Linked DNA regions of Homo sapiens: region 2 is linked to region 1. Evidence: fine-mapped expression QTL. Tissue or cell type: adrenal gland. Region 1 holds a variant in brackets; the other region holds the start of a gene. All regions are shown on one strand. Distances are between the middles of the regions.

Region 1 (7,886 bases):
CAGTTACGGTATGACTCCAGGCCAGGGGACATCCAGGCCCACGAGGTTGGGGGGCTCCCACCCTCCTGTTTGTATGGCTGCCCCTGTGACTGTCACACTGCTGCCTGTTTCACAGAGGCTCCTTTCAGGTGACCTAGTCCAGTCCTTCTTCAGGCTGGCAGCCAGTGCAGGTTACCCAGGAGGGCGGAGCAGAGGGCCAAGGGAAGAAGGAGGGTCCCCTCCCGTGGGCTGCCTTCAGGGCCCCATCCACCTTGTCAGGCGCAGGGAGTGGTACATGGAAATAGCCCTGGATTTCTACCCAGACAGACCTGGGTGCAAATCCTGACACCAGCTGTGCCCAGCACGCTGGTGTGGACATGGACGCAGCTCTTAGCAAGAGATATAAGCTGCTGATTGCTGACCCTCTTTAGGCCAACTTTCTAGTTACAGACAAATAAATACAGCCAAGTGAAAAAACAACAAACTAGAGCTTGTCAAAAGTGCACTAAATGCCCCCATGCAAAGCTGTGCTGTCTAATCCAGGAACCACAAGTCATTACTGAGCCCTTGAAATGGGGTAAGGCTGGATGGAGATGGGCTATCAGGGCAAAGTACACAGCAGAGATTGAAGACTTGTTAGGAATAAAAGGCCGGGCGTGGTGGCTCACGCCTGTAATCCCAGCACTTTAGGAGGCCGAGGCAGGTGGATCACCTGAGGTCAGGAGTTCGATACCAGCCTGACCAATATGATGAAACCCCATCTCTACTAAAAATACAAAAATTAGCCAGGTGTGGTGGCGGGCACGTGTAGTTCCACCTACTTGGGAAGCTGAGACAGGAGAATTGCTTGAACCCAGGAGGCAGAGGTTCCAGTGAGCCGAGATCGTGCCATTGTACTCCAGCATGGGCAACAGAGTGAGACTCTGTCTCAAAAAAAAAAAAAAGAAAAGAAAAAAGACTTGGTAGGAATAAAAGAATGTAAAATAATAATATTGAAATCATGTTTTAATTGTTTACATGCTGTAATGATAATCTTTTAGACATAGTGGATTAAAGAGAATGTATTATTATAATTAACAGCCTGGGCAACATAATGAGACTCTGTCTCTACACAAAAATAATAATTAAAAAAAAAAATTAGCCTGGCGTGGTGGTGCATGCCTGTAGTCCCAGCTATTCACGAGGCTGAGGTGGGAGGATCACTTGAGCTGGGGAGTTAGAGACAAGCCTGGACAACATAGCAAAACCCTGTTTCTATAAGAAATACAAAAATTAGCCCGGCATGGTGGTGTGCGCCTGTAGTCTCAGCTACTGAAGAGCTGAGGAGGGAGGATTATTTGAGCCCAGGAGGTCAAGGCTACAATGAGCCGTGATTGCACCACTGCACTTCAGTCTGGATGATAGCGAAAGCCTGTCAAAATTAAAATAAACGTCCAGGCACTGTGGCTCATGCCTGTAATCCCAGCACTTTGGGAGGCCGAGGTGGGCAGATCACTTGAGATCAGGAGTTCGAGACCAGCCTAGCCAACATGGTGAAACCCCGTCTCTACTAAAAAATACAAAAATTAGCCAGGTGTGGTGGTGCACACCTGTAATCCCAGCTACTCTGGAGGCTGAGGCAGGACAGTCGCTTGAACCCAGGAGGTGAAGGCGTCAGTGAGCCAAGATCACACCACTGCACTCCAGCCTGGGGGACAAAGCAAATAAATTTTACCTTTTTTTTTTTTTTGAGTTGGGGTCTCACTATGTTGCCCAGGCTGGTCTCAAAATCCTGGGCTCAAGTGATCCTCCCACCTCAGCCTCCTGTATAGTTGGGACCATAGGCACATGCCCACTCTGCCTAGCTTATTTTATTTTATTTATTTATTTATCTATTTTGAGACAGAGTCTTGCTCTGTCACCCAGGCTGGAGTGCAATGGCACCATCTCAGCTCACTGCAACATCCGCCTCCTGAGTTCAAGCAATTTCCTGCCTCAGCCTCCTGAGTAGCTGGGATTACAGGCGCCCGCCACCACGCCCAGCTAACTTTTGTATTTTTAATAGAGATGGGGTTTCGCCACATTAGCCAGGCTGGTCTGGAACTCCTGACCTCAAGTGATCCTCCTGTCTCGGGCTCCCAAAATGTTGGGATTACAGGCATAAGCCATCGCACCCGGCCTGCTAATTTTATTTTTTGTAGAGACAGGATGCCAGAAGCACAGAGAGGGGAAATTCCAGACCAGGGAACAAAAGGGACAGCCAAGTTTTGATGTGGCCCGCCTGGCCTCCCCAGCAACACACCCTGTCACCAGGGACGTGGAGAAGTCAGCAAACAGGCCAAAGAAGGCCTCTTGTCACTCAAGGGCCTGGACAAGAGACAGAAATGTCAGGTCAACAGGGCCTTCTCTGCGGCCAGCCGGGATGGGGGACAGTGGCTGTGACCCCAGTGGACAGGATGGGCCCTGGACCTCTGCCTCCTGTTGGAGCAGCCAGAGGTCGGCAGGCCCCTCCCATGGAGGCAGGGCTGGGGAGGTCATGACACTGGTCGCTCCCTTAGCAGCCGGGGGGTCTGAAGCTTGTCCCTACTAGAGAAAGTGACCTAGCCGGGCCCTGCTTGGTCAGGAACTGCGGATCTTTCCCACTTCTCCCTGCACCACTCATCATGCTCTGACCACAATGGCCAGACTCCAAGATTTTCAGAAACTTCCAAGCCTCTTCCTGGCTCAGGGCCTTCGCTCCTGCTGACTCCCTGGCCAGGAAAGCCCTTCTCCTCCTGATTTTCTCAGGGCTGAAAATATGAGGTCTCCCCGCAAGGGGCCTTCCCTGAAGCCCAGCTCATGTCCCACCCAGTTTCTCAGTCCCTCTTGAGGGTCTGGGATCTAGACTGTGGCCTGACATGTTTGTTCCCTTTCTAGCACTTTCTACGATCTCTAATTCTCTTGTTTTCTTATTGGTTTAGTAAGATTCCCCTCCCCATGCCTCCACTAGGGTACTGTCTCCATAAGGGCAGGCGTCTCTTAAGTTCATAGAGCATGGGGCCAGGTACACAGCTGGCATTCCACAAGCCAGCCAGAGAGTGGGTGAACAAAGGGATGAGCGACTCAGAACACACGCCTGGCAGCGAATCTCTGCAGAGTCCCCTGATGAGGACCTTACAATTCAGGGGACACAGAGACCTGGATTATTGCCTCCCGAGGGGTCTGGTCTCAATCTAGTTCTCTCTTTCACACACACACACACACACACACACACACACACACACACACACGCCACCTTTCAGCACAGGCCCACCTGTCCCCATCCCTCCCAAAACGCCCTGCCCTGCATGTCAACATGGAGGACGCATTTAAGCTATGAGGCGGGGAGCCCAGAGTAGCCGCTGCAGCATGCCTGGCCCTCCGCCGCAGGGAGGTTGGGTTGGGGCGGGCAGCGGGACTTAGATTACCCAGGACCCGATTTGGGAGCCCTGGGGGCCTCTTGCAGGAGGAGCCCAAGCAATGGCTGGCTGCCTGCCCTAGCAGGTCTGCGAGCCAGCAGGCAGGCTGCCACCACTTACGGGAAATGCTCCACTGAGGAGAAAGAGTGGTAGGTTGTTTAGCCCAGCCCTGGCCCCTGTCCAGACTGGGTCAGGAAGCTTTGCCCTGTGCCAGCGTCGCCCACGCAGGCTCAGTTCCTCCCCAGACGGCTTGTCCAGAGACCCACAAGGCAAGCCGGGGAGTCACTGCCCATCTCTCTCCTTCCTGTGTATCCAAAGCAACAACAACAAAAACCAAAACAGCAGTTTGTGGACTCAGACACTTTGCAGTCAGCGTGCTTTGAAGCTCAGCTCTGCCTCTTATCAGCCGGGAAATAAATAGCTTGGACAAGTTACTAAACCTCTCTGAACCTCAGTTTCCTTCAGTGTGAAATGAGAATCATGACCTGTTTTAAGGGCCGTGAAGGGGTGGCCTGCCCCTCCACACCTGTGGGTATTTCTAGTCGGATGGGACAAGAGACTGAGAAAAGAAATAAGACACAGAGACAAAGTATAGAGAAATAACAGTGGGCCCAGGGGACCCGCGCTCAGCATACCAAGGACCTGCACCGGGCACCGGCACCGGTCTCTGAGTTCCCTCAGTTTTTATCGATTATTATCTTCATTATTTCAGCAAAAAGGAATGCAGTAGGAGGGCAGGGTGATAATAAGGAGAAG[A/G]TCAGCAATAAACATGTGAGCAATAGAATCTATGTCATAATGAAGTTCAAGGGAAGGTACTATGACTGGACGTGCACGTAAGCCAGATTTATGTTTCTCTCCACCCAAACATCTCAGTGGAGTAAAGAATAACAAGGCAGCATTGCTGCAAACATGTCTCGCCTCCCACCATAGGGCGGTATTTCTCTCATCTCAGAAATGAACAAATGTACAATCAGGTTTTATACCGAGACATTCGGTTCCCAGGGGCAGGCAGGAGACAGTGGCCTTCCTCTATCTCAGCTGCTAGAGGCTTTCCTCTCTTACTAGTCCACCTCAGCACAGACCCTTTACGGGTGTCGGGCTGGGGGACAGTCAGGTCTTTCTCATCCCACGAGACCGTATTTCAGACTATCACATGGGGAGAAACCTTGGACAATACCCAGCTTTCAAGGGCAGAGGTCCCTGTGGCTTTCCATAGTGCATTGTGCCCCTGGTTTATTGAGACTAGAGAATGGCAACAACTTTTACCAAGTATACTGCTTGTAAACGTTTTGTTAACAAGGCAGGTCCTGCACAGCCCTAGATCCCTTAAACCTTGATTTCATACAACACATGTTTTTGTGAGCTCCAGGTTGGGTCAAAGTGGCTGGGGCAAAGTGGCTGGGGCAAAGCTACAAATTAACAACATCTCAGCAAAGCAATTGTTTAAAGTACAGGTCTTTTTCAAAATGGAGTCTCTTATGTCTTTCCTTTCTACATAGACACAGTAACAGTCTGATCTCTCTTTCTTTTCCCTACAGGGCTGTTGGATAGAATGCAGGAGCTAATTTGTTTTTTTTCTTTTTTCTTTTAGATGGGGGTCTCACTGTCACCCAGGCTGGAGTGCAGTGCTGCAATCATAGGTCTCTACAGCCTCCAATTCCTGGGCTCAGGCAATCCTCCTGCCTTAGCCTCCCTAGTAGCTGGGACTACAGGTGCACACCCCACACCCAGCTAATTTTTTATTTCTCATAGAGACAAGGTCTTGCTATGCAGCCCAGGGTGGTCTGGAATAGACTCAAGTGATCCTCCTGCCTCAGCCTCCCAAAGTGCTAGGAGTACAGGCATGAGCCCCTGGGTCTGGCTAGGAGTTAATGTTTTATCACATACTCAGCACATTGCATGCACATAGTAAGTGTTTGCTAAATAAATTATGTCAAGCCACCTTTATTTTCACTCCAGGAGGTAAAGTGCATGGCATGATACCCATTTTACAGATCAGGTGATTGAGGCTCAGAGAGGTTTTGAAGCAGGTGCATACAGCAAACCAGTGGTAGACCCATGAGTAGATATCAGGTCTCCACCTGCTCCCTGCTCATAGCTTTTCCCATCACACAAAACTGGGGTGCACAGTCCCTGCCAAACCTTTAACCCAAGGTTGCAAAGTGCCTGCCCAAGGGTCAACTCTGGGCTCCAGACATGTTTGGGTTGGACCTGCATAGTTAAAAAAAAAAATAGGCAGCGTTCATGGAGTTAATGGCCAGTATTGGAAAATTGGGGCCAAGTGTAGTAGCTCACGCCAGTAATTCCAGCACTTTGGGAGGCCAAGGCAGGAGGATCTCTTGAAGCCAGTTCAAGACCAGCCTGGGCAACAAAGCGAGACCTCATATCTATTTATAAAAAATAAAAATACTAACCAGGCGGGGCATGGTGGCCTGTGCCTGCAGTCCCTGCTACTTGGGAGGCTGTGGTGGGATCGCTTGAGCCCTGGAGTTCAAGCCTGCAGTGAGCTGTGATCACATCACTGCTCTCCAGCCTGGGTGATAGAGTGAGACCCTGTCTCTTAAAAAGAAAGGAAAGAAAAGAAAAGAAAAATCAGATGTCACTTTTTTTTTGAAGTCTGTACTTCTGTTTTTTCTTAAGGAAGCTCAGGTGACATGGAGCCTGAATTCCCTGTGGTGGGAGCTGAGCGGTGCTATCCCCCCTTAGATGGGGTTGCAGAGTCGAGCTCACCACCCCCAGACACCAGTGTGCTCACTTCATTCTCTGCCACTGGCGAGTTTGCCATTGCTCCTGAAAACCTACTGTTGTAACCTGGGCATGGTGGCTCATGCCTGTAATCCCAGCACTTTGGGAGGCCAAGACACACAGATTATCTGAGGTCAGGAGTTTGAGACCAGCCTGGCCAACATGGTAAAACCCTGTCTCTACTAAAAATATAAAAATTAGCTGGTTGTGGTGGCACATGCCTGTAATCCCAGCTACTGAGGAGGCTGAGGCAGCAGAATCACTTGAACTTGGGAGGCAGAGGTTGCAGTGAGCTGAGATTGTGCCATTGCCCTCCAGCTTGGGCGACAAAGCGAGACTCTGTTTCAAAAACAAACAACAACGACAAAAAAAAAAAACCCGCTGTCAGGTGGGATTCCCCAGAAGCAGACCATACCCTGCATGAGGGTGCATGAGCACCTTAGGGATTAGGCAGGGCTCTGGGGAGGGTCGGAGAGATGGGCTGAGAGGCAGGGAGGCCACACAGGGGTGTGACAGCAGACAAAGGCCCTCAAAGGTGTATCAAAAAGTACCAAAAACTGAGTGGCTTAAAAATCAGAAATTCATTGTCTCCCAGTTCTGGAGCCTGGAAGTCTGAGATTAATGTGTCTACAGAGCCCTGCTCCCTCTGCAGGCGCTAGGGAAGGATCTGTCCCCAGCATCTCTCCTAGTTTCTGGTATTTTCTAGGCTGTGGCTGCGTAATCCAATCTTCACATGATGTTCTCTCTGTATGCGTGTCTGTGTCCAAATTTCCCCTTTTTATAAGGACACCGGTCATATTGGATTAGGGATCCACCCTACTCCAGTGTGACCTCATCTTTCTAATGATGTCTGCAATGACTCTATCCCCAAGTAGGGTCACATGTTAAGGTACAGGAAGTTAGGACTTCAATATAGGAATTTTGAGATGAAGGACATAGTCAACCCTTAACAGAAGGTAACTGTGGCTCACCCCACAGGGGGTTCTCAGAGTCTCCAGTGGGAGGGGGGAGCTGGGGTATTTATACTCTCCTGTCCATCTTGCCCTTGCCCCATTGGCTCTAGGAAAACACACAGGCAAAGCAGGTTCCAACATCATGAGGAGTGTCTCTAGCTAAGAGGTGCAGGGGCTGCTGTTGGAAGTGAAAGCTCACCAGGACCTGGTGGGAATGAAGATGGTGACAGGATCCGAGGGACTGTGGGCTCCTGCCAACCACCATCATGGTGACACAGAGGAAAGAGTCTTTACTCCACCTCTGTCATCCACTACCTTGGTGGGAATTGACCAGTAGGGTGGCCCTAAATGAGTCACTGGCCTCTCTGCCTTACTTTCTCCACATACAGTCCACACCAGCTGGGACCAGAGCTGCTAGGAAAAAGAATGGATGATGCCCACTCACCCCCATCCATGTGCACCCCAACCCAGCTGGCGCTTGGGGAGTGTCAGCAGGTGGAGGTGGTAGAGCCCTCATACCTATCAGCATCAACTCACTTACAGAGGGACTGAGGAGCCCCTGGGAGAAACAGGACCCCCAAATCAGATAGCCCTCCCCATGAGTGAGCTCAGGATATTCAAACACAGGTCTTGAAATGCGGCACCTGGATTCTTGGCCAAGGTACCTCGAGGACTGGATTTTCATTTCTCAGCCTCACTTGGCCTTTATACCTCCGAGACGCTGCATTCACCATTCATAATTTTAGCTCAGTTCACTTGGAAAAACCCAACCACAAAGCAGAGAACTTGAGAA
Region 2 (6,228 bases), 85 kb before region 1:
CAGGCCTACATGGTAAAACCCCGTCTCTACCAAAAATACAAAAAATTAGCCAGGCGTGGTGGTGGGCACCTGTAGTCCCAGCTACTCAGGAGGCTGACACAGGAGAATTGCTTGAACCCGGGAGGTGGAGGTTGCAGTAAGCCAAGATCACACCACTGCACTCCAGCATGAGCAACAGAGTGAGATTCCATCCCACAAAAATAAAAATAAAAAGGAGAATAACTTGCATCCTGCCCTCTAATATACAGTATAGTGATTAATAGCAAAGGCCCTGTATCAGACTTGGTTAAAAACCCAGTTCTGCTCTTTCTGCCTCTCAGACTGTGGACAAGTAAATCTTTGCAGCCATCTTATCACCTGTAAAACGGAAATGACAACAGTCCCTACCTGATAGGTGACTTCCTCTCTGCTCTCCAGGCCTTTGCTGATGCCCCATCACTCTGGTCCTCTTCTCCCGACCAGACTGTGCTCCAGATGGCAGGGTCCAGGTTAGTCTGGAATCATTGGCATCTAGCCCAGTGCTGGCTGGGACCATGTGTTACTAAGTGCAGGCTCTGCAGCCAGACAGACCAAGTTTATCACCCTGGTTCCCCTGCTACCAGTCATGCGACCTCGGGAAAGTAGTTTACTTTAAGCCTCAGTTTCCTTATCCAAAAATGGAGACAGTAGGACTATGAAAGGACATAAATTAGGTAATTCACATGAAAGCACAAAGATGACAGCTGCCAAACGGTAAGTATTCTACAAAATGCTGGCTATAATTAGTGGTAGTGACAGGCAGCTGATACACTGCTGTTTAATAAATGTTTCCGAGGCCGGGTGCGGTGGCTCATGCCTGTAATCCCAACACTTTGGGAGGCCAAGGCGGGCAGATCACGAGGTCAGGAGATCGAGACCATTCTGGCTAACATGGTGAAACCCTGTCTCTACTAAAAATACAAAAAATTAGCCGGGCGTGGTGGCCTGTAGTCTCAGCTACTCGGGTGGCTGAGGCAGGAGAATGACGTGAACCCAGAAGGCGGAGCTTGCAGTGAGCCGAGATCCCACCACTGCACTCCAGCCTGGGTGACAGAGCGAGAATCCGCCTCAAAAATAAATAAATAAATAAACGTTTCCATATTCTTAGTGTCTGGGGCTAGGTAAAGTTTGTTCACTCATTAATATTCCAGGTGCCAAACCTGTGAGCAATGACACTCCAGTAGCAATGAGCATTTGTGGCATCCACATCTTGGTTTCTGAACTGTTGTCTGCTAAAAAGTAACCAAGGCTCCCTGAAGAAATGACTGCAGCAGGGAGAAGGGATGACTGAAACATCTTGTATCAGAAAGCAAGAAAATGCTCAAAGAAGCTGGATTAGTGCCCAAAGAACATAAGAACTGTCTTGAAGGGGCTTCACTGGCCACATCTGGGGGAAAAAAAATCGACCAGAAAGAATAATAATTGATTATAAAAGACAATTTTAAAAAATCCAGGAATCCATAGTGAGTCTTCGAAAAAAAAGAAAAAAAGAGAGGGTATAAAACTGATATATATTTATCATATATATAATCTATAGTTTTATATATATATATATAAATGCTGCTAAAATCACTGAGTGAAAGGCTGATAGAGAAGAAGATGGTCCCAGAGAGTACCTGTTAATTACAAATGGAAGAAGGAAACATTAAATGGAGAAATGGGGCAGACACCACCTTTAGCAAGCGATCAAGCTTCACATTACCAAAAACGGGACAAACTGACATTATCCAAGTGTGTTCTGCAGGAAAAAAGAAAAATTAACCTTTATCTAATTACAAGGCAAGAGGGAGGGGAGGATTAGACAAATCAAGAATATGGGATATTCTATTACACAACTGGTCTGGACCCGTCAAAATTATCAAGGTGATGAGACCCCCCCTAAAAAAAGAAGGACTGATCTGAATTAAAGGAGACCGAAGAGAAATAACTCCAGGCAGTGAGTGAATCCAGCAGGGGAGGGGGTCTAACAACTGAAATTGAAATATAAACTGTCTATTGGCTAATACTGCATTGGCTAGTACTGCATCGATATTAAATCTCTTGGGTATGAAAATGGCACTGATGTCATGAAGAATGGCTTTGTTCTTAGGAGATGCACTGCAGAAGTATTTATGATAGGAAATCTCTGAAAAGGAACAGACGTTGAGTCCCAGTCTTTCGGCCCAAGGTTCGCGCGTGCGCACAGCCCCCTTTCCGAGACTTATTTCGCGCGGTCGGAGAATCAGATTGTGCCCACAAGGCGGAAATGTACGACAGCGGGTTCCGGTGACCACGAAGGCGGCAAAGGCGACGGAATGGAGGAGGTGCCTCACGGTAAGCTCGCGGAGGGGGCGTGGGTCGCGGGGCGAAAGTGTCGGGAGCTGCTCTAACTGTGGTCTTGTCTCTGCGCAGACTGTCCAGGGGCCGACAGCGCCCAGGCGGGCAGAGGGGCTTCATGTCAGGGATGCCCCAACCAGCGGCTGTGCGCTTCTGGAGCGGGGGCCACTCCGGACACGGGTGAGAAAAGGGCAAGGCCTCAACAGGAACTTAGAGGCGCAGGCCCGGAAAAGGCGGGGCGTGGGAGGGAGGGGGCGGGATCTGCAGAATGACTGACAGCGGCAGGCTAGAAGGTATTGTATTCGGAGAGGGGTGGGGCCCAGAAGGGGCGGGGCGTGGAAAGTGGGCAGGGTGAGGGCGGAGCTTGGAATGACTGACAGGAACGAGGCCTTTAGAAGGCGAGCGCGAAGGACCTGGCGCGGATGGAGGGTGGAGACTGACCGGCGCGGAGTCGAAAGGGACATTAATTAAGAGGGTCGGGGCCAGAGGTTTGAGTGACAATAACAGACCGCAGAGAAAAACGGGATAAGCTTCGAAGTCGGGGAGTCTTCGGACTTACATCCTGGCTCTGCCAGCTACTTTCTTGACACAATTTTCTTCCTTTTGAGGAGTGATTCTCCCACTCATTCAGCAGAAATGTGTTGATCGCCTCGTAGGTTTGGTGCTGTCCTGGGGACACAGCTGGGGATCAGGCGTGGTCACTGCTCTAGTGGAGTTTAGCTTTACTGGGGAAACAAACACGTGAGCTAGCAACTAAACCACCGCAGCTTTAAGTGCTGTGAAGCACAGATTCCAGGATGAGAGGACCCAGGGAGCCTGCTCAGAAGGACCTTAAAAAGCAGGAGGCAGGAGGACAATATTTTTTTTTCTTTTTTTTCCCCCTTTTTTTTTAGACAGAGTCTTGCTGTGTAGCCCAGACCAGAGTGCAGTGGTGTGATCTCGGCTCACTGCAACTTTCACCTCTCAGGTTCAAGCGATTCTCGTGCCTCAGTCTCCCGAGTACCTGGGACTACAGGCGCCTGCCACCACGGCTGGCTAATTTTTATATTTTTAGTAGAACCAGAGTTTCACCATGTTGACCAGGTTGGTCTCGAACTCCTGACCTCAAGTGATGCATCTGCCTGGGCCTCCCAAAGTGCTGGGATTACAGGCATGAGCCACTGCACCTGGCCAAGGGGGAGAATCTTGAAGGAGTTCAGAGAGAGACTTGGATTTGATTCTTGGATCCATGCGGTGTGACCTTCAGCAATAGTCCTAACCTCTCTGAGCTTCTGGTTCCTCATCAAAAATGGAGACAGGCCGGGTGCAGTGGCTCACGCCTGTAATCCCAGCACTTTGGGAGGCCGAGGCGGGTGGATGGATCACTTGAGGTCAGGAGTTCGAGACCAGCCTGGCCAACATGGTGAAACCTGTCTCTACTAAAAATACAAAAATTAGCCAGCATGGTGGTGCATGCCCGCCCTCGAGGCTGAGGTGGGAGGATCACTTGAACCCGGGAGGTGGAGGTTGCAGTGAGCTGAGATCGTGCCACTGCACTCCAGCCTGGGTGACAGAGTGAGACCCTGTCTCAAAGAAAAAAAAAAATGAAGAGAAAAATAGTTATCTCTGTCAATGCAATGGAGAGACTGAACTGAGCCTCAGTGGAGGTTTATTGGGCCAGAGCTTGAGGGCGTGCCCTGGAAAATACAAGTGACAGAAACATCTGTGGCCTGTGCTCGATGGAGTGGTTCCAGAAGGCTGGTGTTTATATATTTCATTAAAAGGGGAAAAAGCATGCAGGAAAAAGTGCAGTAGGCCTCGTGGCAGGTAGTTACATTCTTGTGAGGTTTTAATTCGTGCCCAGTATATCTACACTATTCAGAAAATAAAGTAAACATTCAAAAGAGGGAATAAAGGAAGAATTAATTAGGCAGACGTCTCAGGGTAGGAGAGGAAGGACTATCTCATCCCATCTTTGTTTGGCATGTGGGAGGATAAGCTTGTAATGGACATGGTCAGTGTGGCGTTTAACAGACATCAGTAATAGGGAAGGAGTTAGACTGAGGTTACAGTCCTAAAGTTACAGTTGGCATGTCCTTGTTTATGGGAGGATACTCATCTTCAAAGATTTAGGGGCCAGCAAAGGAGTTCCTTAGGAGCAACTTGTGAGGGCAGTCATCCCACAATGGATTGCATGGGGCCTTTGGCCTTTTGCAGGTGTCTGGTTAATGTAGAATGCTTTGACACAAGGTTGGGAAGTAACAGCTGTCTGTTGATGGGGAGGAGGACAGCAGTGTTGGGAGGTTTCCAGGCTTAACTTTCACTTGAGTTTGGCCAGTCATGAGACTTTTTAATTTCCTTTATACCTCGTGTATTGTTTTAAGGATTTGAAATAAGATAGTTTCATTGGCAGATACTTAGTATGTGCCTGCTGTCTATCAGAGTTTCTCAACCTCAGCACTGCTGACATTTGGGGCAGGATCACTCTTTGTTGTGGGGGGCTGTCCTGTGCATTGTAGGACATTTAGCACAATCTGGGCTGTACCCATTAAATGCCAGCAGTACCTCTCCTGTGACAATGAAAAGTGTCTCCAGGCTGAGCATGGTGGCTCACACCTGTAATTCCAACACTTTGGGAGGCCAAGGTGGGTGGATCACTTGAGGTTGGAAGTTCGAGACTAGCCTGGCCAACATAGAGAAACACCGTCTCTATTAAAAATACAAAAATTAGCCAGGCATGGTGGCAGGCACCTGTAATCCCAGCTACTTGGGAGGCTAAGGCAGGAGAATCGCTTGAACCCAGGAGGCAGTGTTGCAGTGAGCCGAGATCACGCCACTGCACTCCATCCTGGGCGACAGAGCAACACTCTGTCTCAAAAAAAAAAGAAAGAAAGAACAGTGTCTCCAGACATTACCAAATGTCTCTGGGGGATTTTGTCCCCAAGTTGGTGACCATTGCTGTTTGCAAAGTTCTCTTCTGGAGCTGGGAATACAGCACTGAAAGCTTCAGACAGTTCCTACCTTTGTGGAGACTATGTTCTAGTTGGGGGAGACAAACGTGTAAACCAATAAATGAGACCCCTTCAAGTGTGATAATAGCCTTATTTTCTTCCTAGCACTTATTTCTACCATTGTCTGAGAGGTATTTCAGAGGATCGTTTTAAACAGCCCCAGGACTAGTACTAGGACTAGGACTTAGCTCTTTCTAGTTGACTGGAAGCGTGACATTCGAGGTTTGGTGTGGGACCTCATCCCCTGAACTTTGGTTTTCTTTGCAGCTATAGAGGAAATCAAAGAGAAAATGAAGACTGTAAAACACAAAATCTTGGTATTGTCTGGGAAAGGCGGTGTTGGGAAAAGCACATTCAGCGCCCACCTTGCCCATGGCCTAGCAGAGGATGAAAACACACAGGTGAGACCTCAGGAACCACTGGGAGATGCTCATTTTGTCTGAGGGTCGTGATGGCTACTAAATAACTGATTCCTAGGCCAGGCGCAGTGGTTCATGCCTGTAATCCCAGCACTTTGGGAGGCCAAGGCGGGCAGATCACTTGAGGCCAGGAGTTTGAGATCAGCCTGGCCAACATGGCAAAACCTTGTCTCTACTAAAAATACAAAATATTAGCTGGGCGTGGTAGCGCAGGCTTGTAATCCCAGCTTTTCGCGAGGATGAGCCATGAGAATCGCTTGAGCCCAGGAGGCAGAGGTTGCAGTGAGTCAAGATTGTACCAGTGTACTCCAGCCTGGGTGGCAGAATGAGACTGTCCAAGAAGAAAAAAAAATGATTCCTTATACTAAGTTGAATTGGCCTCTTTGGAATCTCAATCCGGCAGAGAGCAAAGAAATGCCCAGTAGTCAAATGAAGCATTTCACTGGATTCCCTAGCCAAGAAAATGGCTAGCAGATGTACATCTG

Evidence for each region. PIP is the estimated chance that this variant, and not a neighbour inherited with it, causes the effect.
Region 2: it holds the start of NUBP1, and the variant in region 1 is fine-mapped to the expression of NUBP1 in adrenal gland (GTEx, PIP above 0.99).

The regions. Positions count from the first base shown.
Region 1 is chr16:10,825,554-10,833,439 of GRCh38, forward strand. No RefSeq gene overlaps it. Among named protein-coding and RNA genes, the nearest start is that of TVP23A, 11 kb to the left of the region's middle. RefSeq lists a silencer at 3,393-3,462. The variant A/G (reference allele first, on the strand shown) is at 4,152.
Region 2 is chr16:10,741,552-10,747,779 of GRCh38, forward strand. It overlaps NUBP1 (NUBP iron-sulfur cluster assembly factor 1, cytosolic), which reads left to right and starts at 2,291. Exons shown (of 11, transcript NM_002484.4): 1 at 2,291-2,331; 2 at 2,410-2,514; 3 at 5,592-5,725. The coding sequence starts at 2,313. RefSeq lists an enhancer at 2,100-2,149.